3 separate regions of the Homo sapiens genome follow, and regions 1 and 3 are each linked to region 2. The links come from fine-mapping of genetic effects on gene expression. A gene starts in region 2. Each other region holds a variant in brackets. All regions are shown on one strand. Distances are between the middles of the regions.

Region 1 (8,469 bases), 22 kb after region 2:
TCTTGCTCAGGTATGGGGCAGTCTTAGGGAGAGGGCCCTGGGTTGGGAGGCAAGGGTTAAGGGATTTCTTATTTCAGTGTCTGGGTGAGGCTGAGGATCTTGCCTTGTGATCTGGAGGGAGGCCACTGTAGGCATATTTCCCATTTCAGCAGGGCTCAGGTGCTCCAGGAGCTTAGGGAAGCTGCATGGGGAACAAAATAGTGCTTATGAATACTGACCCCTTTTCCTCATCTGTCTAATCCCCCAACTTAGGTGGCAGGTCCAGCGGAAAGTGATCTGCATCCCCAAAAGTATCACTCCTTCTCGAATCCTTCAGAACATCAAGGTACTTGGTAATGGGTTCTATCTTCTTTAGCTCTTTGGGACATTTTCTTGGCCCTGACTCTACCTGGCTAAAAAGGCAGTGTTGTGGAACCCCAGCTTCTGCTCACAAAGCTGGCTTTCTTGAACCCCACTCTCCATCCTCAGGTGTTTGACTTCACCTTTAGCCCAGAAGAGATGAAGCAGCTAAATGCCCTGAACAAAAATTGGAGATATATTGTGCCTATGCTTACGGTGAGGATGTATCAGCCTCCTAGACTTGGGGAATGTGAGATTTGGGGTGGGATTCTGGCCCAGGTGTGACCTAAGGCTTGCTGGTTGTGAGAAGGACACAATGTTGTGGGTGGGATTGCTATGCTGGACATAGTGCCCTCATTTCTCTTTATTGAGCTCAGGGAAGTAGTATGGCTCAGGGATAAGGCATATAACCTGTGAGTCCCAGTCCTGCTTCTTGATATCTTGTAACCTAGAGCAAGTTATTAAACTTCTCCAAGCCTCAGCTTCCTATGTGTAAAATGAGCCCAGTTCCTGACATGTAGTAGATTCTCAGTAAATGATATGAGGAGAGCCCAGAAGGCGTTGTTGACCTCACTCGAGGGATTGGGGTTGGGAGGGAAGTCGGCTGTACTTAGGGAAATAAATGGTTCCTGGCCTCTTGATCTCAGTTCAGACTGCAAACTCTTAGGGGCAGGGGTAGCTACATATCAGGCTATGGGTTTGGTGCTAGAATGGTGTTGATACTGTGGTGTTCTCTGAGGATGGGGATCCCAGCCAATGCCATCTGGCATAGTGCTGTACACAGGTGAGTTTGTTTAGGAAGATTTGGGGAAGATGCCTGGAGTCTTTGGAATGGCAACTCCTGCTGATGGAGTAATCTATCTGTCTCTCTTTCCAGGTGGATGGGAAGAGAGTCCCAAGGGATGCAGGGCATCCTCTGTACCCCTTTAATGACCCGTACTGAGACCACAGCTTCTTGGCCTCCCTTCCAGCTCTGCAGCTAATGAGGTCCTGCCACAACGGAAAGAGGGAGTTAATAAAGCCATTGGAGCATCCATATTGCTTGCTTGTCTTATTTGCCTGGTCAGGCCTGAGATGGAGGCTGTTTCCCTCAGGGATGACAGACCTCGGGCTGCTGGATGTGACCTGCCCTTGAAGCCCAAATATTCATATCCTGGTTCTGGAGGAACCTGTGAGGAGGCTGAGTAATTCTGTATCCTTGCATTAGGCACGTTGGGAAGTAGCGCCATCTACTGGCACATCTTAAGCACTGCATGCTTCCCTGGAGTCTTCTCAAGAATGCCTCAAATTGGCCACCTCAGGAGTGAGCGATCAGGGCAATGATTGTCCGTTGGTTTCAAGGCAGTGCTGGACCTGGGCCTTAAGTTTCCATCCCCCTGTCCTGACCAGTGCCTAGGTTTAGTAATTTGAAGAGTCCAAGCGACTTACATTAAGAAGTTAGGGAATCCTAGCTTGCAAAATCACAAAAGGTGGGGACAGGGGCTTTCTCCATCAGACACTATAGTCAGTGTGCATAGGTGACCTGCAGGAGGCAACAGTCCTGCCCAGACCTTGTCACTCGGCCCCTAAGGCCCTATCTTATGCACTTTTTATTGGTGGGCACCAGAGACCACTGATAAACAGGTTTTAGGAAGGTTTATGGCAAATCTCTCTAACCTCCAGTCACACGAAACTCTTTACTTTCCCAAACCATTGCTCTTTGTTCAAGAAGTATTTATTGGGTACTTATGGGTTAGGCATGATGCTAAGCCCTGGGGATATAGCTATAACCAAGACACATAAGTCCCTACAGCCTACTTGAGGAGACAGACTAAGTAATTGCATAATTAGTTTAATTACAGTCGGAAGAAGTGTTATGAGAAGTGCAGGGCGAGTAGCCTACTTATTTAATCAGCTAAGATCTGAAAGATGAATAGGGATTAATTAGTTAAAGGAGGTAAGAGTGGGAACAGCATTCCATACAAATTGGACAGCTTAGGGAAAAGTCTTGAAACTGGAAGACGCTGCTGGAAAAGCCTAAAGAAGACTTGTAGGACAGCAACTAAAAGTAAGGGGGACCTGGTGGTAGAGGCGATGGCATAAAACAATGCTGGCATTGGTAGGAACTGATGATTGGAAGGCCTAAAAGACTGTTGAGATTTCTATTATTTATTTTTTGAATTGAGGTCTCTGTCACCGAGGCTGTAGTATACAAAAATTTTAAATTTTTATAGAGATTAGGTCTCCTTATGTTGCCCAGGCTGTTTTTTGTTTGTTTGTTTTGTGATGGAGTCTTGCTCTGTCACCCAGGCTGGAGTGCAGTGGCGCCATCTCGGCTCACTGCAACCTCCGCCTCCTTGGTTCAAGCGATTCTCCTGCCTCAGCCTCCTGAGTAGCTGGGATTACAAGTCCCCGCCATGACACCTGGCTAATTTTTTGTATTTTTGGTAGGGATGGGGTTTCCCCGTGTTGGCCAGGCTGGTCTTGAACTCCTGACCTCAAGTGATCTGCCCGCCTCAGCCTCCCAAAGTACTGGGATTATAGGCGTCAGCCCTCCCAGGCTGATTTTGAACTCCTAGGTTCAAGACTCCTAAATTCTTGGCCTCCCAAAGTGTTGGGATTACACGTGTGAGCCACTACACCCAGCCGCTTCCAAATCTTTGTGAACAGTGCTGCAACAAACATGGAAGTGCAGATCTCTCTGATACACTCATTTCCTTTCTTTTGGGTATATACTCAGCAGTGAGATTGCTGGATCATATCGTAGCTCTATTTTTAGTTTTTTGAGAAACCTCTAAAATGTTCTCCATAGTGGTTGCACTAATTTACATTCCCACCAACAGTGTTTGAGGGTTCTCTTTTCTCCACATCCTCTCCAGCATTTGTTATTGCCTGTCTTTTGGATAAAAGCCGTTTGAACTGGGGTGAGATGATATCTCATTGTAGCTTTAACTTGCATTTTTCTGATGATCCGTGATGTTGAGCACCTTTTCATATGCCTGTTTTCCATTTGTATGTCTTCTTTTGAGAAATGTCTATTCAAATGTTTTGTGTATTTTCACTGGATTATATTTTTTCCCATAGAGTTGTTTGACTTCCTTATATACTCTGGTTATTAATCCTTTGTCAGAGAGATAGTTTGCAAATATTTTCTCCCATTCTGTGGGTTATCTCTTCACTTTAATGATTGTTTCCTTTGCTGTACAGAAGCTTTTTAACTAGATGTGATCCCATTTGTCCATTTTTACTTTGGTTGCCTGTGCTTGTGGGGTATTACTCAAGAAATTTTTACACAGATCAATGTCCTGGAGAGTTTCTCCGGTGTTTTCTTGCAGTTGTTTCATATTTCGAGGTCTTAGATTTAAGTCTTTAATTCATTTTGATTTAATTTTTGTATATGGTGAGAGATAGGGGTCTAGTTTCATTCTTCTGCATATGGATATCCTGTTTTCCCAGCACCATTTATTGAAGAGACTGTCTTTTCCCCAGTATGTGTTCTTGGCACGTTTGTTGACAATGAGTTCACTGCAGGTGTGTGGATTTGTTTCTGAGTCCTCTATTCTGTTCCATTGGTCTATATGTCTGTTTTTATGCCAGTACCATGCTGTTTTGGTTACTATAGCTCTGTAACAAAATTTGAAGTAAGATAATGTGATTCCTTCAGTTTTGTTCTTTTTGCTTAGTATAGCTTTGGCTATTCTGGGTCTTTTGTGGTTCCATATAAATTTTATGATTGTCTTTTCCATTTCTGTAAAGAATGTCATTGATATTTTGATAGTGATTGCATTGAATCTGTAGATTGCTTTCAGTAGTATGGACATTTTAACAATATTGATTCTTCCAATTCATGAACATGGAATATCTTTCCATTTTTTTGTGTCCTCTTCAATTTATTTTGTCAGTGTTTTATAGTTTTCATTATAGAGATTTTTTCTTTGGTTAAGCTCATTCCTAGATATTTGGTTTTATTTGTAGCTGTTGTAAATGGGATTACTTTATTTCGTTTCCAGACTGTTCAGAAATTAGTCTTGACTTAAACATCTCACCCTGCCTAACATTAACATTCTCTATAGCAAATGTCTATTTTGTTGTTGTTAACAACTTACCTGAAAAATTAGCAACAGACATCTTTGTCTAATCACTGTGGTTGTAGGAAAATCCAGGTTCTTGTCACATGAACAGGAAAGATTAGGCTCGCAGAAACTTTGAGGGGTGAGGGGGATGGAATTTATTGGGGAAAAAGGAAAAACAACACAGCAAAGCAAGAGAGGGGTTCCTGTTAACAGGCCCTCATCTCACAGATTGAATCCCAGGTTCCACACAGGAACAGGAGGGGCCAGGCTCCTCCCCACTGCAAACAGCATGAACTTCCATGGCTCCACCCCATTCTCCCAGTGCGCAGGCCAGTCAGA[T/G]GTTCTCTGGGAACCCCTTTATACTTGGCTGTCTCATTCCCCCGTCTAAAGAAGTACATCTAACTGCTCTTAGAGTGAGGCTAAGGACAAAGACCAATCTTAACTGCTTCCTGCTGACAGGGGGTGCTGTTTTGGGAAGACGGCAGTCAGATCTCCCTCAGAGGCCTATATTAGGGTCCCCTGCAGAAGGGGCCATTGTCCAAGGCTCTGGTTGCATGTCTGTTTGGAGTTTGATGGCCTGAAGCTGAGAAGAGACAAACTGGGTTATTAGAAAACATGTATCAAACCAAAACAAGGGTAAGGACAGGTGAAAAATCATGAGGCCTTTTACCAGTTTGTATGGGGAGAGGGAGGCCAAAAGCCCAATTGGTAAAAAAAACTTTTACCCTTTTGCTGGCATGTCAGGCTTCTGGGTTCCCTTCCTCTGAGCCCAATTCTAAGTTAGCCAGTTTAAGGTTCGGGAAATTAACTCTTTCTCAATTTGGAGGATTATCTGAGGGGAGAAAAAAAAGGTGTTTTTTCAAAGGAGTCCCAGGAGTTCAAGATGCATTCAAAAGGAGTACAAACTGAAGGTGAATGGCTACTCATCTAGAAAGGGGCAAGCAGGCGCCCCTAGTTCCTTTCTCTTCCTACCAAATACCTGGGGTATGTGAGGGAGGGAAAGTGAGGCATTCCTCTTTCTTTCCACCATCCTTGTATCCCTGAGTCCTGGCGAATGCAACAGCATGCCACCCATGGGTGTTAAAGAGGCTTTTACCCATGTTAACTAGCGGGGCTGGGGGAGGGAATTATTCACTCTACTCACATACGCCTTATCTCCCCTGCTGTAAGTAGCCGTGAATTCCCTAGACTTCATTTACGCCATGGATACTAGCATGACTTTTATCCATGAAACAGAAAGCTTAGCTTAATTGGCAGGAGTCAGCCACGCTCACCTGTGCTGTGCCTTTTAACTTCCATTATCTTCTGCCTCTGGATCCCTCAGATCCAGTCTTCTTTCCTAGGGCTTTGACCCAAAGCTTGGAATTGAGTTTGAGACAAAAATGTGTCTTGGAGGGAGTTGCACGGACTCCTTATCATAAGCCAAATGCTAAAGTGAAGCTGTGGAATTGAGTCCTCCCCCAACAAGGGAAAGAAAAGGTTGTCTTGTGACACACCCAGATAACTGGTGGCTATAGTTATGCTTGCTAGGATTTGGGTGCATGGTGCTTGGCTTTGGTTAGCTCCCTTGGTCTTGCTTTCCCAAAAAGGAAACCCCCAGGTGATGGGCACCCTATTTATTCCCATTGCCTGGCAGGATTTGATGTATAATTGCTCAGAACAAGAATATTGATCCAGATTTCTACATTACCCATCCCTTTTGTTCTTTCTGAGCTGTAGCTGGAGATTGCTGGTTGGTTCACAGGAACAAGCAGGGTTAGTCTAAAATGCAGGCAAAGACTTAAAAACAACTAATTAGTTTAGAATTTAATGACAAATGAAGTCGGGTGCGGTGGCTCACGCCTGTAATCCCAGCACTTTGGGAGGCCAAGGCAGGTGGATCATGAGGTCAAGAGATTGAGACCATCCTAGTCAACATGGTGAAACCCCATCTCTACTAAAAATACAAAAATTAGCTATGGTGGTGTACGCCTGTAGTCCCAGCTACTCAGGAGGCTGAGGCAGGAGGATTGCTTGAACCCTGGAGGAGGAGGTTGCAGTGAGCCAAGATCGCACCACTGCACTCCAGCCTGGCAACAGAGCGAGACTGTCTCAAAAAACAAACAAACAAACAAACAGAATTTAATGACAAATGTATACGTTTTGAAACATAATTTCTTTCTCTGCAGTTCTCATTTATTTTTATTTTTATTTTTCAATTTTTCTTTTGTTACCAGTTCTCATTTCTGTTAAAAAATCATGATAGGACTGAGTTGTTTGCAAAATAGACTTTAGTCTTATACTTGGCCTGATTAGTTGCATAAAGTGCAGCAAGAATAACTATTTCTACATAGGCCTTTTAGATTGGCTTTGATGCAACTCTTTTCCACAAGGACTCTTAGAGAAGACCTTTTAAAGCCGAGCCCAGCCATGGGTCTGTATCCTTAAATACCTGTGAGTTGAGTGCTCCTCTTCTCTTAAGGTCCCAAGATAAACTTGGAACTCTGGGCCAGTTAGAAAGTGACACTCTTGGCTGGGCATGGTGGCTCACACCTGTAATCCCAGCACTTTGGGAGGCCAAGGCAGGCGGATCACGAGGTCAGGAGATCCAGACCATCCTGGCTAACATGGTGAAACCCCATCTCTGCCAAAAATACAAAAAAAAAAAAAATTAGCCGGGTGTGGTGCCACATGCCTGTAGTCCCAGCTACTCAGGAGGCTGAGGCAGGAGAATAGCTTGAACCTGGGAGGCAGAGGCTGCAGTGAGCCAAGATCATGCCACTGCACGCCAGTCTGGGCGACAGAGCAAGACTCTGTCTCAAAAAAAAAAAGGAAAGTGACATTCTTTACTGACCACAGGTCAGGAACCCTGTACAGGGACTGTGTAGGCAAGGGTATGAAGCCAGTTTTCTCCCCAAGGGGATTTTTTTGGCTCTGCAACTCGAGCTTGACTGCTTAAAGGGAAGCATACCCTTGCACTCAAAGCCTTGGTAAAACAACCAGTTTCTCCAGTTGCATCCTGTTGCAAAAGAAAATGGATTCTTACTGCACTGATGCAAACAACTATATTACCACAAGTTAAAAATACTCACAGAGGCTGGGTGCAGTGGCTCATGCCTGTAATTCCAGCACTTTGGGAGGCCGAGGTGGGCAGATCACCTGAGGTCAGGAGTTCAAGATCAGCCTGGCCAACATGGTGAAACGCCATCTCTACTAAAAATACAAAAATTAGCCAGGCGTGGTGGCAGGCACCTGTAATCCCAGCTACTTGGGAGGATGAGGCAGGAGAATTGCTTGAACCCGGGAGGTGGAGGTTGCAGCGAGCTGAGATCATGCCATTGCACTCCAGCCTGTGTTGTGGGAAGTCAGGAACCCCGAATGGAGGGACCGGCTGAAGCCACGGCAGAAGAACATAAATTGTGAAGATTTCATGGACATTTATTAGTTCCCCAAATTAATACTTTTATAATTTCTTATGCCTGTCTTTACTTCAATCTCTGAACATAAATTGTGAAGATTTCATGGACACTTTTCACTTCCCCAATCAATACCCTTGTGATTTCCTATGCCTGTCTTTAATCTCTTAATTCCGTCATCTTCGTAAGCTGAGAAGGATGTATGTTGCCTCAGGACCCTGTGATGATTGCGTTAACTGCACAAATTGTTTGTAGAGCACGTGTGTTTGAACAATATGAAATCTGGGCACCTCCGAAAAAAGAACAGGATAACAGCAATGTTCAGGGAACAAGAGAGATAACCTTAAACTCTGACTGCCAGTGAGCTGGGCAGAACAGAGCCACATTTCTCTTCTTTCAAAAGCAAATGGGAGAAATATCACTGAATTCTTTTTCTCAGCAAGGAACATCCCTGAGAAAGAGAATGCGTCCCTGAGGGTAGGCCTCTGAAATGGCCACTTTGGGGGGCAGCTGTCTTTTTTGGTCGAAGCTGTAGGGATGAAATAAGCCCCAGTCTCCCGTAGCGCTCCCAGGCTTATTAGGACAAGGAAATTCCCACCTAATAAATTTTGGTCAGATCGGTTGTCTGCTCTCAAACCCTGTCTCCTGATAAGATGTTATCAATGACAATGTGTGCCAAAACT
Region 2 (8,469 bases):
ATTTTTACTAGAGATGGGGTTTCACCATGTTGGCCAGGCAGATCTTAAACTCCTAATCTCAAGTGATCCACCCGTCTTGGCCTCCCAAAGTGCTGGGATTACAAGCTTGAGCCACCGCGCCCAGCTTCCCTCCATCATTTTCTCCACTTTCATATCTCCTGTCTCTTCCACTGGACCCTTCCCCGCTGCTTAGCACGTGGTCATGCTCGCATTTCCCACATAGTGAAAAACTCTCCCTCCATCTGCATCAAGTCACTATTAACCCATAACTTTTCTTCCTCTTACTTTTTTTTTTTTTTTTGAGACAGGGTCTCACTCAGTTGCCTAGGCTTTGTAGTGGTGGGTGCGATCACAGCTCACTGCAGCCTTGGCCTCCCAGGCTCAGGTGATCCTCCCACCTCAGCTTCCCAAGTAGCTGAGAACACAGGTGCATGCTACCATACCCAGCTAATTTTTGTATTTTTTGTAGAGATGGGATTTCACCATGTTGCCCAGGCTGATCTTGAGAACCCCTGGGTTCAAGTGATCTGCCTGCCTTGGCCTCCCAAAGTGCTGGGATTACAGGCATGAGCCACTGTCCCTGGCCTTTACTGTATCCTTGAGAAGTCCTTCCTCTGATTCTCCATGTCTTCATCTCCTGTTCATTCCTGAATTCAGGTCATCTGGCTCAGGATTAACCATTCCACTGAAGGAGCTCTCCACATTGGTCACCAATGATCTTCATGTCCACCAAATCCAAAAGTTTCTGCTGTGGATATCAGACAACATGAATATAAAGACTATGGTAAGTAGTGGATGCTCAATAAAGTGGTTGTTCTTATATTCTTATTTGCTCACTTCTGTTTTTTTGTTTTTTAAAAATTATTATTTATTTTTGAGATGGAGTCTTGCTCTGTCGCCCAGACTGGAGTGCAGTGGCACCATCTCGGCTCACTGCAACCTCTGCCTCCCAGGTTCAAGCAATTCTCCTGCCTCAGCCTCTCAAGTAGCTGGGATTACAGGCACCTGCCACCATGCCCAGCTAATTTTTGTATTTTTAGTATTGATGGGATTTCACCATGTTGGCCAGGCTGGCCTCGAACTCCTGACCTCAGGTGATTGGCCCGCCTCGGTCTCCCAAAGTCCTGGGATTACGGGTGTGAGCCACCACACCTGGCCTGTTTGTTTTTAGACAGGGTCCTTGGTAAAAAGAATTTGAGGGGAAAAAAAAAAAGAGACAAGGTTTTGCTCTGTTGTCTAGGCTGGAGTAGAATGGCACAATCATGACACACTACAGCCTCGAAGACCTGGGCTCCAGCAATCCTCCCACTTCAGTCTCCTAAACACCTGGGACTATAGGTGTGCACCACCGTGCCCAGCTAATTTTTATATTTTTTGTAGAGATGAGGTTTCACTATATTGCCCAGGCTGGTCTTGAACTACTAGGCTCAAGTGATCCTCCCTTCTTAGTCTTCCACAGTGCCGGGATTACAGCCATGAGCTACTGTGCCTGGCCTGTAGGTTCTTCTTTTACGTATTTTTTTTTTTTTGAGACGGAGACTTGCTCTGTCACCCAGGCTGGAGTGTAGTGGTGCGGCTCACTGCAACCTCTGCCTCCTGGGTTCAGGCGATTCTCCTCCCTCAACCTCCTGAGTAGCTGGGACTGCAGGCGCGTGCCACCATGCCCAGCTAATTTTTGTATTTTTAGTAAAGACGGGGTTTCACCATATTGGCCAGGCTGGTCTCGAACTCTTGACCTCGTGATCTGCCCGCCTTGTGCTGGGATTACAGGCGTGAGCTACTGCGCCCGGCCCCTTTTTTTTTGAGACAGAGTTTTGCTCTTGCTGCCCAGGCTAGAGTGCAATGGCACAATCTTGCCAAACGCAACCTCTGCCTCCTGGGTTCAAGTGATTCTTCTGCCTCAGCCTCCTGAGTAGCTGGGATTACAGGGATGTGCCACCTCACCTGGCTAATTTTGTATTTTTAGTAGAGATGGGGGTTCTCCATGTTGGTCAGGCTGGTCTCGAACTCCTCACCTCAGGTGATCTGCCTACCTCGGCCTCCCAAAGTGCTGGGATTACAGGCGTGAGCCACCATGCCTGGCCTATTTTATTTTTTTTTGAATACAGGCTGGAGTGCAGTGGCGCGATCTCAGCTCACTGCAACCTCCGCCTCCCTGGTTCAAGTGATTCTGTTGCCTCAGGCTCCCAAGTAGCTGGGATTACAGGCTCGCATCAATACATCCAGCTAATTTTTTTTTTTTTTTTTTTTTTTTTTTTTTTTTGAGGGGCAGTCTCGCTTTGTCAAGAGGCTAGAGTGCAGTGGCTCGATCTCGGCTCACTGAAACCTCCGCCTCCCGGGTTCAAGCGATTCTCCTGCCTCAGCGTCCTGAGTATCTGGGACTACAGGTGCGCGCCACGACGCCTAGCTGAATTTTTTTTTTTTTTTTTTTTGAGATGGAGTTTCACTCTTGTTGCCCAGGCTGGAGCGCAATGGCGCAATCTCAGCTCACCACAACCTCCGCCTCCCAGGTTCAAGCAATTCTCCTGCCTCAGCCTCCCGAGTAGCTGGGATTACAGGCATGTGCCACCACGCCCGGCTAATTTTGTATTTTTAATAGAGACGGGGATTCTCCATGTTGGTCAGGCTGGTCTCTAACTCCTGACCTCAGGTGATCCGCCTGCCTCGGCCTCCCAGAGTGCTGGAATTACAGGCGTGAGCCACCGCACCCGGCCAAGTCTGATTGTTTTTATGAGGATGGCCTGATACATTAGACATTTGGTCCACCAGGACATCACTTATGTTGGGGAGACAGTGGGGGATAACGGGGGTGGGGAAATGGGAAGAGTTGCTCTCAGGGAGTAAAGGTGTGGGGAAAAGCAGAGCCAAACCGAGATAACCCTGTGTCTTGCCCATCCCTGCCAAGGAAAACACATACATGCAAGACACCTCTCCACTCAAACAGCACAGACTATTTCAAATCGCAGATGTGTCATTTAATTAATACCTGTGTGACTTTGGGAAAATTATAAATAGCCTTAACCTTGCTGAGTCTGTCCAATCTGTAAAATGGATTATGAATACTTTCCTCACAGGCTTATGGTGTGCTGGTAATATCTTCCTCTGGATGGCAGTTACATTGCAAAAAATAATTTAAAAAAAAGAACTGTATACATTTAAGATTTATACATTTTCTTTCTTCCTGGATGTAGAATAGGAAAAAAAGAAAAAGAAAAAAAAAAAGACTGGTGTATTTTCTGTATATATGCTATACTACGATTTTTAAAAAGGCTTGTACGAAATAAAAGAATATTCCTTTTCGGCCAGGCGCAGTGGCTCACTCCTGTAATCCCAGCACTTTGGGAGTCCAGGGCGGGTGGATCACGAGGTCAGGAGTTCAAGACCAGCCTGGCCAAGATGGCGAAACCCCGTCTCTACTAAAAAATACAAAAAAATTAGCCAGGCGTGGTATCGGGCGCCTGTAATCCCAGCTACTCGGGAGGCTGAGGCAGAGAATTGCTTGAACCAGGGAGGCGGAGGTTGCAGTGAGCCAAGATCGCGCCACTGCACTCCAGCCTGGGCGAGAGCGAGATTCCGTCTCAAAAAAAAAAAAAAAAAAGGAATATTCCTTTTCCAGGATTATTATGAAGATTCAATAAAACCATGTTTATTAAGTGTTAAGCACAGTGCCTGGCACATAACGTGCTGGGCGGGGTCTATGGTCCAGACAGGGGGACCAGGCACTTTCCAGCGCCTGGATCTGCAGACGCGAGGTCTTCTGTATTCTGGCCAATCTTGGTGTTGCAGCTGCTCTCTGGGCCTCAGTTTGCTTGAACTAAATGTAACGGGGCCAACTTAGGTGAACTTTGGGAATCCAGCCAACCTGACTTTAGGGAGAGTATGGAGCCACGGATGGCATTGTGAATCCGGAGGGCCGACACCAGAAGAACCTGCAACGTGGCATCTGCTACCTTACTTCCCCCGGAAAAGCGCCTGCGGCGGCGCCTAGGCGCGCGGTGCAATGTGGGCCAGCAAAAGGCGAGGCTGGCCCCGCCCCTTGCACCGCCCACGTGGCCAGCGCCACCTGCCTCATTGTGCCCAGGAGTTCTCCAAACCCGCGCTGCGGAGTGAGTGACCAAGTTCCGGCCAGTTCGACCTCGAGGATCCAGAGGTGGAGACGGTACTACCTCCCAGCTCTGTTTTCCATCCCCTTCAGGTCCTTCCTCGGGAGGCGGCGAAGGCGGTCCACCCTGCGCGTGATCCTTTATGCCCGGCCCCTGCCCCTCCCTCCGGGTGGAACTTCCCCCTCACCGCCAGACTTAAGCTGAGGATCGTTGGATCTCTGGCGGGGTGCAGAACTGAGCCCAGGCCACAGTACCCTATTCACGCTCTGTGCTTGTGCCAAGGTGAGTTTCTCTTGCTGCTGGCCTATCTTTCTCCCGGAGGAGATGGCCTCGATTCTTTACTACTGAAATGTAAGCCCCTGGGGTTGAGTGGAGAGCGCAGAGCACTGGAGGGGACGAGACTTGGTTTCGGATTTGAGCTCTTCTTTTTCTCTGTATGATCTCTTGCTAACTTCCCAGTTTCTCTGAACCTGTTTCCTCAGCAATAAAATGAGGTCCTACATTAGAACTGTAGCAAGAATTGAGATAAAGCTTTGAAGGCGCACAGCGCATACTAGGTGATCTGCAAGTTTTAATTGCCATCTTTTTGTTTGCTCACCTATGTGCTTTTTCCAGCTGCTCCGGCTTTCTTATGCAGGTGCAGGGATAGTTCTCAGAAGTGGGGAGAAGTGGGGATAATTCTCTTACTTAGACACCTGCTTTGGGTCTGAGAAAGTCTGACATGTTATTCTGTTGCCCCAGAACTCTGTTAAAGTAAGACACAGATCTGAACCTTCACTGGATGAGGCTACTGTTAATTAACTCTTCCCCTTCAGATCGTTCATACTCAGGGCTGCAGGCCTGTTACTTTTCCAAGATCTGTTTCCTTATCTTTAATACAGGAGCAATCTCAGTATGATTCTATCTGGTCCACTGGGATTTTTTGCCGAGTATAGTAAAGTGCTTTGATATTCTCCAAGAGGATTCTTTTCAGGTTTTCCAACAGGTAAAGGAAGAAGGTGACAGAGGCAGCGACTTCCTCAAATGTCCTTCCAGCTGGCCAAACTCAACCTGTCAAGATCTCTCCCCCATAAGCTGTGTGTGTGTGGTGTGTGTATTGTGTACATTGTATGTATGTATGTATGTATGTATGTATGTATGTATGTATGGGACAGGTACTCTAGGAGTGAGGGGTTCAGGCAGATGACAGGCTCAGACCTCAAGGAGTAGCCAGGTTTGTGGGGGAAATTTATATATAAACAGAAAAATGTAGTGATGTGCACATGCTATCAGTACATGGAAGTAGCCATCCATTTATTTATTTATTTATTTTCTTTTTAGAGATGGATGGGGGTCTCTCGGTCTTTTGCCCATGCTGGAGTGTAGTGGTGGAATCCTTGCTCAGTGCAGCCTCAAACTTCTGGGCTCAAATAATCCTGCCACCTCAGCCTTTGGACTATAAACTACATGCCACTGTGCCCAGTTAATCTTTAAAATAAAAAAAAAAAAATTCCCCCTAGCAAGCAGACTCAGAAAGAAAAAAACAAATTTTTGTAGAGACAGTGTTTCCTTTTGTTGCCCAGGTTTCAAGTGATCCTCCCGCCTCAGCCTGCCCAGGTGCTGAGATTACATGTATGAGCCACTGCACCTGGAAAGGAGCCAGAAATGTGAAGTGCTAGCTGAAGGATGAGCAGCAGCTAGCCAGGCAAAGGTAGGGTTTGGGGAAGGAAAGTGCACACACCTAGAGTCAGGTAAGTGATGTGACCCTGTTGAGTGTTCAAAGTCTGGAATACAGTCTGACATGAGGAGGTGGTGAAATGAGAAAGATAGAAGCCAGGTTTTGAGAAGCCTGGACTTTATCCTGAATATAGGGGAGAATTGCTGGAAGGGTTTGAGACTGGGAGTCACATGGTTGGATCTGGTGATGGACTGCGGGAAGAGGGACCACTCTGGAAGCCAAGATCTGTGGTTTAAGTAAAGAGTGATGGTCAGCTGGGCACAGTGGCTCATGCCTGTAATCCCAGCACTTTGGGAGGCCAAGGTGGGTGGATCACCTGAGGTCAGGAGTTCGAGACCAGCCTGGCCAACATGGTGAAACCCTCTCCGTACTAAAAATACAAAAAGTAGCTGGGTGTGGTGGCACACACCTATAATCCCAGCTACTGGGGAGGCTGAGGCAGGAGAATCACTTGAACCCGGGAAGCAGAGATTGCAGTGAGCCGAGATCATGCCACTGCATTCCAGCCTGGGCAACAGAGTGAGACTCTGTCTCAAAAAAAAATTTAAAAAGGCTGGGCACAGTGGCTTATGCCTATAATACCAGCACTTCGGGAGGCTGAGGCGGGCAGATCACGAGGTCAAGAGATGGAGACCATCCTGGCCAACATGGTGAAACCCCGTCTCTACTAAAAATACAAAAATTAGCTGGGTGTGGTGGCATGCGCCTGTAGTCCCAACTACTGGGGAGGCTGAGGCAGGAGAATCGGTTGAACCTGGAAGGCGAAGGTTGTAGTGAGCCGAGATCACACCACTGTACTCCAGCCTGGCGACAGAGCGAGACTCTGTCTCAAAAAAAAAAGAGTGGTGGTGGTCAGAGATGGGGCAGTGGCAGTGGAGGTAGATATGGATGGACTAGAGAAAGATTTAGGAATATATATTTTAAAATTCTTTTCACATACATCAAGAAGTACAGGAAGCATTATTGCAATCTTAGGTCTTAGGTTACATATTAGAGCATTCTCTTTTTCTGTAGCTATTAAGTATTAACAAGATTTAAAACCCAGCTAAACTGACAAAATCTGGCCAACATTACATATGTAAGGTGATTTTCCAAGCTGGCTTTTCTAGAAGTATAGGAGAGGCCGGGTGTGGTGGCTCATGCCTGTAATCCCAGCACTTTGGGAGGCTGAGGTGGGCGGATCACGAGGTCAGGAGATCGAGACCATCCTGGTTAACATGGTGAAACCCTGTCTCTACTAAAAAATACAAAAAAATTAGCTGGGCATGGTAGCGGGCACCTGTAGTCCCAGCTACTCGGGAGGCTGAGGCAGGAGAATGGCATGAACCCGGGAGGCGGAGCTTGCAGTGAGCCGAGATCACGCCACTGCCCTCCAGCCTGGGTGACAGAGCGAGACTCCGTCTCAAAAAAAAAAAGAAGTATAGGAGAAAGCCAGGTGTGGTGGCTCACACCTGTAATCCCAGCACTTTAGGAGGCCAAGGTGGGAGGGTCACTTGAGGCTAGAAGTTTGAGGGGGCAACACAGTGAGACCCTATCTCTACAAAAGAAAAATAAGGCCAGGCATAGTGGCTCACACTTATAATCCCAGCACTTTGGGAGGCTGAGGCAGAAGGACCACTTGAGCCCAGGAGTTTCAGACCAGCCTGGGCAACAAGGAGAAACCCTGTCTCTACGAAAAACACAAAAAATGAGCTGGACATCGTGGCCCATGCTTCTAGTCCCAGCTACCTGGGAGGCTGAATGGAAAGGATAGCTTGAGCTTGGGAGGTGGAGTTTGCAGTGAGCTGAGATCACACCACTGCCCTCCAGCCTGGACGTTAGAGCGAGACTCTGTCTCAATAAATAAGTAAATAAATAAGCTGGGTGTGGTGACATGTGCCTGTAGTCCCAGCTACTCGGGATTGCTCCAGTCCAGGAGTTCGAAGCTGCAATGAGCCATGAATGGGCCACTGCACTCCAGCCTGGGCAACAGAGTGAGACCCTGTCTCAAAAAGAAAAGTACAGGAGAAAATACTCTCCTCACCAACTACTTATCAAAACCATAATCTGATAATACTCATAAATGCCTGCAAGGAACTACAAATACTTTCTTTAGATGGCTTTTATTTATTTATTTTTTAGACAGGGTTTCAGTCTGTGGCCCAAGCTGGAGTGCAGTGGTGTGATTTCAGCTCATTGCAACCTCTGCCCCCCAGGCTCAAGGGATCCTCCTGCCTCAGCCCCCTGAGTAGCTAGGACCATAGAGACACATCACTATGCCTGGCTAATTTTCATATTTTTTGTAGAGATTAAGTTTTGCCATGTCCCCCAGGCTGGTCTCGAACTCCTGGACTCAAGCAATCTGCTTGCCTCAGCCTCCCAAAGTGCTGGGATTAACAGGCATGAGCCACCACACGCAACCAGATGTTTTTTTTTAAGGCCCAAATGGATTATACTATCAACATGTTGTCTGGTTTGCTTTAACACTTGTTATCCAGGGCTTTGGTCTTTTGGTGAGATAGAGTACAAAGTCAACACTCTATCCACAAGTTGTGCATCTGCGGATTCAACCTAGAATCAAAAATACTTGGGAACAAAAACCAACTTTAAAAATTCAAATAAAAAAATACAGTATAGGCCGGGCGTGGTAGCTCACGCCTGTAATCCCAG
Region 3 (8,469 bases), 730 kb after region 2:
AGCCCAGCAGGGAAGAAGCCCCCTATACTTCTCTAAAGCCTGGGTGCCTGCTTGAGGAGGGAAGGCAGGAACCCAGGGGCAGGGGAGGGGATCTCTTCAGCAATTATGATGACCACTGTAACCTCCTGGCCCAGGGTTCCCAGGATACTGAGTAAGGGGCCCAAAGACTATAAACCCAGCTGTGAGAATGCCTGTTTGCTGGGCCTCATCAAGGCCTCCAGGACCTCAGTGCAAGGGAAGAAGGAAAAAAGAGAAAAAAGGTGACAGAAAGAGAAAGATAGAACTGGTGGTTGGGGTTCTGGGCAGCCCATGCTTCAGCCCCTGCAAGCTGATGGTACCGAGCATGAGACTGTGAGGTACGGGCCCCATCACATGGTGCTAACATAATCTGCGAAGGCCTGGGATGAGTCCCATGAGTCGCTAACCACATGGCAGGTAGCCCGGAGCCGCCGGATGGCTTCCCTGGCTGTGACTGCATCCTGGTCCAGCCAGTTTTGGAAGAGGCGCAGGTGACCAAAGGCTCCACGGCCCCAGCGCTCCAGCCGCTTGGCGAACTCCAGAAGCCCATCTGGCTTGATGCAGTTGGAACTGGTAGGGTGAGATGGATTAGATATCCAGGAAGCAGTGAATTCCTGGTCTATATCTCTGTAGCCCCATCCCTTGTCTTGCCCCTCCCCTCATGTACCTGATGTCCAGCTGACAGAGAGAGGAGGATGAATCCTCTGAGAAAACATCTGCCAAGGCCAGCAGGCCAGCATTCCCTGGAGAGAAGGGGAGAACGCCTATCACCTCCACCCAAGAACAGGGGACAAGGGTATCCCAACCCAACTATGGCTGGCAGAACCAGCCCTGCTGGTTCCTGAAGCCCCAGCACAGAAATATCTGTATTCCAACTCCCACGTTCCCAGTGGAGAGGTCTTTGCCTTTATCCAGTGAGTTTTTAGGTCAAAGGCCTAGCTCCTTTCCCCTCTCCCTCCCCAGGGTCTGGCCCCCACCCAGGCGGTTCCCTGGCAGCCGGAGGCCCTTCAGTGTGGAGTTGCCCTTCATAGCAGCAACCATCTCAGGCAGAAATTGGGCTGGGCGCTTCTCAAACAGACGGCAGAAGGAGAAGGTAATCTCTGTCAAGAAAAATTATAGTAAATTCTGATGGCTGCATTAGGACTGGTGCTGCCCCTCCTGCCCCAGTTGGCCCTAGCAAGGGGTATTAACATTATAGAGGCCCAAAAAGAGGAAGGAATTTGTCTAGACTCCAAGCAAGGCTGGAACTAAATCAGAATCCAAACTAAAGACTGAACCTAAATGTTCCCTATAAGAAGGTTCTCTGCATGGACAATTCTCCATTCACTTCCTTCTTTCCCTAACACTGGCCACCCTCTATGCGGGGGTGGGGATCAGAGAAAAGTCTATGAGGGGAGCCTGGCACAGTACATTTATTTTGCCCCACCACCACCATTTTGTCCACCTCTGAAAGGTAAGAGCAACTTTTGGGTGAAGCACTCTAAAAGAGCGATTTCTCATGTTTAGTAGAGGAGGAATTGAGGTTGGGGCTTTTAGAAGGAAAATCATGCAGGTTCTATATCCATTTTATAGCTGAGGACACAAGGCCAAGAAAGGAACAGTGGTTTGCTCACTCAGATTATGGCAGAACCATAGTGAAGACCCAGGAAATGTCCAGGTTCTGAATAAGGAACTTACCTTGCAGAGTCAGATTCTGTAGCAAAAAGAGCACCTCGCTCTGACAGTCAGCGAGATTCATGTCATGGAAGCTCAGTCTTTTCAGGGCTAGGTTGTACTCTGGATAGGAGGCAGAGACCATGGACCATGGACCTTAGCTTTCCTAGAGAACAGTGCTAGGTCCCCACCTACTCCTCTCCCTTCACCATTCTGGCTGGGTCCTACCTTTGAGTGTTTGCAAAACAAGCCCAAAATCCTGGGGAGAGGCAAAGGTGGCACTATCCAGGGACAGCTGCTGCAGAGAACCCGAGGCCTTCAGAACGGAGCACAGCAGTGGGGCTGGCTGGGCTCCCCGTGGAAATCCCATCTCCAACTGCTCCAGGCAGTTTTCTGGATATGGTGGGGAAAGAAGATTCCAGCTGGCCATCTCTACCTCACTCCCATAGCAGGTCCCATCCTGTTCTTAAGGGATTCATCTAAAAAATTATTTATTCATTCACTTGTCGTTGAGTGCCTACCATATGTCAGCACTGTGCTAGATTCTAGGAATTGAGCACTAAATATGAGATTTAGTCCTTGCCCTTGTAGAAATTTTAGACCAGGAAGACAGGCTACCCAGACACAAGCAAATAAAGTATGCAGAGTGGTGGGATAGGAGACATACAAGAACTAAGGGAACATACAGCAGGGGAACTAATCCAGTCTAAAGATCAGTTCTTTTCCTTTTCTGGAGACCAAGCTGCCTTGGTCACTCTCTGCTGGTCTTATGGTGGTTTAGGCCCTGTCTAGCTCAAGAGTATCTTAGTGGTAGGCTCTAAAGGGGGGATAGGTTCCAGATAAGCCAGGAATGAGTGATAGAAGAGGTCCTTCCCCTTTCCCCATACGAATGCATCTGCACCTTTGTGTGGGGATACACGTGCGTGCACACACACAAACACACACACAGTGCTTCACCTGGTATCTCCTCATCGCCTATTATGTGGCTAGGGGGCCCTGCATTCCCTGGCACACCAGGGTTGTCCCGCTGGCTTGGGTGGTCAACACGAATAGAGAGGACCCGTAGCAGGGGCAGTGCTCGCACGATAGCACGTGTCAGCTCCAGGATGGGCAGTGGTGAGAACAGGTCACTGAGATGCAGGGCACGGAGGCGACATCCAGCCTGGCCTGACAGGGCCCGCAGGCTGTCTAGCAGGCGGAAGATGTTAGAGCCCAGGCCTATGGCAAGAAAGAGATTAAGTCAGAACCATGTGGGAGTGTCAGCAGGGGTAATATATTCAAATACAACTCCAAATACTTTTGGTTACTAGCAAATCTCTTGGGCTTTGGCTCAGCTTATTTAAACCCATTTGTCTTAACTACTCATCCATGTCTTGCTTTTTCCTTAGGTAACCAGCAAACTGAGGTCTGCTGTTTTGGGTTATGCCCACAAGAAGCACCAGTCAGGGCAGAGTCACAAAATTGAGAAGATACAATATGGTGAGGCAGCATGTGGCTACTAGCTGAATGACAGGCACAGACAGTAGCAGTTCTCTGGATTTCTGGGTTCTGAGTAGTTTTCTGAAGAAACTGGCCTTGAAGGAAGGAAGTTTTGGATAGAGGGAGAAGACATAGTCAAGAGTCCCAGCTAGCCGGGAGCGGTGGCTCACGCCTGTAATCCCAGCACTTTGGGAGGCCAAGGTGGGCAGATCACTTGAGGCCAGGAGTTCCAGACCAGCCTGGCCAACATGGTGAAACCCTGTCTCTACTAAAAATACAGAAATTAGCTGGGCTGGGTGGCACATGCCTGTAGTCCCAGCTACTCGGGAGGCTGAGGCAGGAGAATCACTTGAACCCAGGAGACGGAGGTTGCAGTGAGCTGAGATCACGCCACTGCACTCCGGCTTAGGTGAAAAAGCAAGACTGTCTCAAAAAAAAAAAAAAAATCACAGCTAGGAGAGTGCAAGGCATGAATGAGACGCTTGCTTGTTTGGCTACATGAGGCTCAGGAAACAGCTCTAGAGGGCAGGGCACTGGAGGCCACATTATGGAAAGGCAAAGGGATGGTTTAACCTAGACGCAATAGGGAGCACCTAAAAACTATGGAGAGTGACAGTGACCCAACTGGGATACTTAAAAGAATCAATGGGTGGGAATGGGGCAGGAAAAGATAACCAAATCCCACAGCATGGACTAGGATCCAGGAAGGTTGGTTGCTTAATGCCACAGGCAAATAATTCCTTGGACTATGCAGGCTCCTGTTCATTCATTCAACTACCCAGTGCCTACTAAATATCAAGTTTTTTGCTAGACACTAGTGAGCAGCACATTGCTTTTTTTTCTTACATAGCTTGATAATGCGATGGGAACTGGGGGAATAAAGTACTATGAAATTACAAAGGATGAGTACCTAGTCCAGCTTACATCAGTAAAGGCACTCCAGCTAAGTCCTAAAGAACATAAAGGGGACAGGCTAAAATTTAGGAAGAATGATTGTGGCAGAGGCAACTTGGCATATGTAGAGGCCTGAAGGAGAACAAAAAAATTTCATAATGGCTGGTGTGAGAGTGTGAAGGGGGGAAGCATTCAAGATACAACTATAGGCCAGGTGTGGTGGCTCACACCTATATAATCCCAGCACTTTGGGAGGCTGAGGTAGGCAGATCACCTGAGGTCGGGAGCCCAAGACCAGCCTGGCCAACATAGTGAAACCCCGTCTCTACTAAAAATACAAAAATTAGCTGGGCATGGTGGCATGTGCCTGTAATCCCAGCTACTGAGTCAGTAGAATTGCTTGGACCCGAGAGGCGGAGGTTGCAGTAAGCCAAGATTGCACCATTGCACTCCAGCCTGGGTGACAACAGAGACTCCCTGTCAAAAAAAAAAAAAAAAAAGATACAACTATAGAGATAACCAGGAGTAAGAATATGAATGACCACTAAGTAAAATTAAGCCATTGAAGGGTGTTTGCATAAATGAATGACAGGGTCATTTTTGACTGATTTTTTTAAAGAATCAAGACTGCATTTTTCAAAGGATGCTTGGGCTGCAGTGCAGATAATGGATTTGTATGGCAAGAGTAAGGAGTCCGGAGGAACTACTGAAATTAGTTCAGGTAGTGGGTAATGGTAGCTTGAATTAAGGATGTGGAGATAGAGAAATAAATGTATTTAACAAATTGTAAAGATAGGGCTGGGCTTAATGGCTCATGACTATAATCTCAGCACTGTAGGAGGCCGAGGTTGGTGGATCACTTGAGGCCAAGAGTTCGAGACCAGCCCGGCCTATATGGGGAAACCCTGTCCTTACTAAAAATATAAAAATGCATTCAAGTTGGATGTAATGAGTTGGGTGGGGTATTGTGGGTTATGAAGTTGTCATGTCTACTAGCTGGATAAATGGGTCTGGAAGTTCAAGAGAAAGATCTGGGGTAATGTCACATAATGGGGAGTCTTTAGCATAGTTGGCCTTTGAAACCACAGGAATGGATGAAATTGTCCAAGAAGCGTGCATAAAGTGGGAAAGCTCTGAGGAACTCTGAATAAACAGAGGAGGAGAAAACTTTTTTTTTTTTTTTGAGATGGAGTCTCACTCTGTTGCCCAGGTTAAAGTGCAGTAGTGCAGTGGCACGATCTCCAGTCACTGAGTAGCTGGGATTACAGGCGCCCACCATCACGCCTGGCTAATTTTTGTATT[T/G]TTAGTAGAGATGGGGTTTCACCATCTTGGCCAGGCTGGTCTTGAACTCCTGACCTCGTGATCCACCCACCTTGACCTCCCAAAGTGCTGGGATTACGGGCGTGAGCCACTGCGCCCGGCCAAGAAAACATTTTTTAAGGTAGTGAAAAAAAATTTAATGAACAGCAGTAAATCCTGCCAAGAAGAGTTACTGAAAAGTATACATTGGATCTAGTAACAAGGAGGACCCTGATGACATAGGTCCTTGCCAGTGCAGTGGTAGGGGTATAAGAGGCTGGAAGGGGCTGTGAGTAAGAGAAGTGGAAACAGTACAGATAACTAAGGTTGTGAAGAACAGGAGATAACAGTTTATTAATATGGCATAGAGGGAGGTGGTGGTGGCAGTTTTTGATGGAGACCTGTTAAAATGCTGATAGGAGAGAGACGGTGGAAAGGAGAGTAGCATAGTTGTTTGAAAGCATGAATCTGCAGTCTGGTTGCCTGGGTTTTGAATCCTAGCTCTATAATTGCTAGGTTATCCTGAGGAAGTCACTTGCCCTCATAGGGTTGTGAGGATTGTTAGATCAAATTATCAAGAATACTTAAAATATGCCAGACACATACTAAGCAGTATATAAAAATTAGTTTGAGAAACAAGCTTCCCTAAGAAGGTAGAATGCTTGTTTCTCAAACTGGTAATTTTTATATACTTTGTTGTGAAGCTCTATGCATCTAGAGCACAGGTGGGAGAATTAGCCTTAGAAAGGATGGTGGTCTCTTCTATTCTGGTAAAGAAGGATGAGTGCAGATGGAGAGTTTATAGGCTGCTTAGCAAGCTAAAGAAACTCATGTGTGATGGCTTCTATTTTCTCTGTGAAGTAGGTGAGGTCATCCCTGAGAAGGGAAAAGGAGAGTTTGGAAGTGGTAGGAATGGGAGCTGATGTTGCAAGCACAGTGAAGGTTCATACGAGGTTAGTGATCATATAGTAACACTGATTTGCATAGTTGTATGATTTGTCTCTAGCAGTGCTCAGCAACCTAGGCGGATTGCTGGATTTAGCCAGAGTTGAGGTTTTGCTAGCTGGTCACAAGCAGGAGGGAAATGAGGACTGAGGACTGCTTTGCAGGTTGTTGGTCTGATAAGAAATTGTGTCCCACACCTTGTCTGGACAGCTACTCTGATATGACTGGTGAGGTGGTGAGGTCAAACTCTAGCCCTGCCTGAGCATGCATATACTATACTGCTCCCACCTGCCCTTGGACTGCCTTCCATATCTAAAATGTATTCATTCTTCAGATTCCAGCTGGCTTGTCTCACTGCCCCTCAGGAACCCCTGCTTTCAACAACTAATCAAGTGTATAGACTTTATGTTCCTCTCTTCTAGCAATGACAGTCTCCCCTGCTATGAGGCATACAAGCCTTCCTCTCTAACCTCCTGATCATACCCCCAATTTGCCCCTCCCACCTCCCTAGAATTAGGCACACAGCTGGTGCTGCTAGGCAATCTAAGCCCAATCCCTGCCACTCCAGGGTGCTCACCATTGTAGGAGAGTGTGAGGCTCTCCAGTGACACCCAGGAGCTCAGCAGGTGGCATAGTGTCAGGGCTGCCTCTGTGGAGAGTGGAACTGTGAATAGCTCCAAGGTGGAGATGCTGCGGAATCTTTGTGAAGCTTCCAGTGCTGGAAGCCCCAGGCAGCTGGGATCTGATCCATCCAAAGCTCCACAAGCCACTTCCCCAATCTCCATCTCTTCGCCATCCTCCTTCTCGCCAGCCACAATAAAAACGAAGTCATACAGGTCTTCAGACTCTGCACCAGGCCCCTGACGGGTGCGAGCACCCTTCTTCCCTGCAGCTCGCTTGAAACGCTTTAGGGGCTTAGGCTGTGGGGCTGAGCTAGCTGGTGCCCGTTTGTATGAGGATGTAGAAGAAGAGGCAGAGGAGGTGGCTGCTGGAGCAGAAGGTGACCGCTTGGTGCCAGGAGCCTCATGGGAGGTGGCTGGGGGGTGCAGCTCCCTCTTAAGGTCTGTTCCGCCTGCTGTCAGGCTCTCCTGTGTGCTCCGGCGTGTTACCCGAGTGGCAGGTGCAGCTCTGGGCATCTGCTTGGCTTCACTCTTACGCCGGCTGGCCATCAGGGCTGCAGCACATCGCTCAGCAGCATCCCGGCGGGGCCGACGTGAGCCCAATAAGAGGGACCCTTCATCTCGGGATGGGGCCCGGCCTCGGGAGGCCTCTCCACAGAGGCGGCAGGGTGGGCCACCAGGCCCTGGTTGCCAGAAGCCAGCACTCATGGTGAGAATAAGGATGAAAAGGGCTGACTCAGGCACAGGCCAGGAGTATAGCGACACTTGACTGACAGCCCCATGGTGAATGAGCTGATGCAACAGCTGCCGAAGTGACTGCTGAGCAGCCACATCAGAGAACAGCAGGTGGCGGAACTTGAGAGTGTGCAGGGAGCTGGCCAGGGTCTCCAGAACCCTGCGGTTGGGCTCAGCCACCAGCTCGGTTGCACCCTGCAGCATGTTACAGATGGTGAGCTGTCGGACATGGCGGGAGCTGTGCAGAAGAGGTGAGAACCGCTGATCACAAAGACGCCTGTCAGAAGACACATCAATGGTCCCACGTAGAACATGGGAAAAAAAGGCCTCCATAAACTTGGCTCGCCAACATGTCACACTCTGAAACGCAGAAAACATGCCAGACAGCCATGATATATCCATGAAACTGTCCAAATTTCCCTCTCTTCCAATAGCACACTATTTACTGAGTCAGGCAACACTACAAATTCATTTAATCTTCACATCTCTGAGGTATGTATTATTATTAGCCCTATTTTACAGGTAAAACCGAGGCACAAAGAGGTGGCCACACAGGTAAGTGGTTGGATTATTTGAACCCTGGAAATCTGGTTCCAGAGACCATGCTTTTATTATAGTGTCTCCACTGAAACACTCACCCCTGTAAGTTCTTCCATGTTTGTTTCTAGAACCTTATCCCAATTTTTTTTTTCTTTTTAAGATAGAGTCTCACTTTGTAGCCTAGGCTGGAGTGCAGTGGTGTGATCTCAGCTCACTGCAACCTCTGCCTCCCAGGTTCAAGTGATTCTCGTGCCTCAGCCTCCAGAGAAGCTGGGATTACAGGCGC

Which allele goes with the higher level. Alleles are on the strand shown, and positions count from the first base shown. SD is a standard deviation of normalised expression in the study named. Not every link is listed here.
In carriers of allele G in region 1, the expression in cerebellum of the gene that starts at base 4,056 in region 2 tends to be lower than with T alone (moderate effect, 0.71 SD a copy in GTEx).

The links. PIP is the estimated chance that this variant, and not a neighbour inherited with it, causes the effect.
Region 1: its variant is the best candidate, but not a certain one, in a credible set for the expression of AKR1A1 in cerebellum (GTEx, PIP 0.83).
Region 3: its variant is the best candidate, but not a certain one, in a credible set for the expression of AKR1A1 in whole blood (TOPMed, PIP 0.88).

The regions. Positions count from the first base shown.
Region 1 is chr1:45,568,675-45,577,143 of GRCh38, forward strand. It overlaps AKR1A1 (aldo-keto reductase family 1 member A1), which reads left to right. Exons shown (of 9, transcript NM_153326.3): 6 at 1-10; 7 at 253-325; 8 at 469-555; 9 at 1,217-1,375. The coding sequence ends at 1,282. Among named protein-coding and RNA genes, the nearest start is that of NASP, 11 kb to the right of the region's middle. The variant T/G (reference allele first, on the strand shown) is at 4,731.
Region 2 is chr1:45,546,771-45,555,239 of GRCh38, forward strand. It overlaps AKR1A1 (aldo-keto reductase family 1 member A1), which reads left to right and starts at 4,056. Exons shown (of 9, transcript NM_153326.3): 1 at 4,056-4,385. RefSeq lists enhancers at 3,739-3,798, 3,849-4,078, 4,309-4,528.
Region 3 is chr1:46,278,497-46,286,965 of GRCh38, forward strand. It overlaps LRRC41 (leucine rich repeat containing 41), which reads right to left. Exons shown (of 10, transcript NM_006369.5): 4 at 6,866-8,003; 5 at 2,629-2,889; 6 at 1,900-2,064; 7 at 1,696-1,794; 8 at 996-1,118; 9 at 686-761; 10 at 1-588. The coding sequence ends at 369. Among named protein-coding and RNA genes, the nearest start is that of LRRC41, 21 kb to the right of the region's middle. RefSeq lists an enhancer at 6,788-7,412. The variant T/G (reference allele first, on the strand shown) is at 5,347.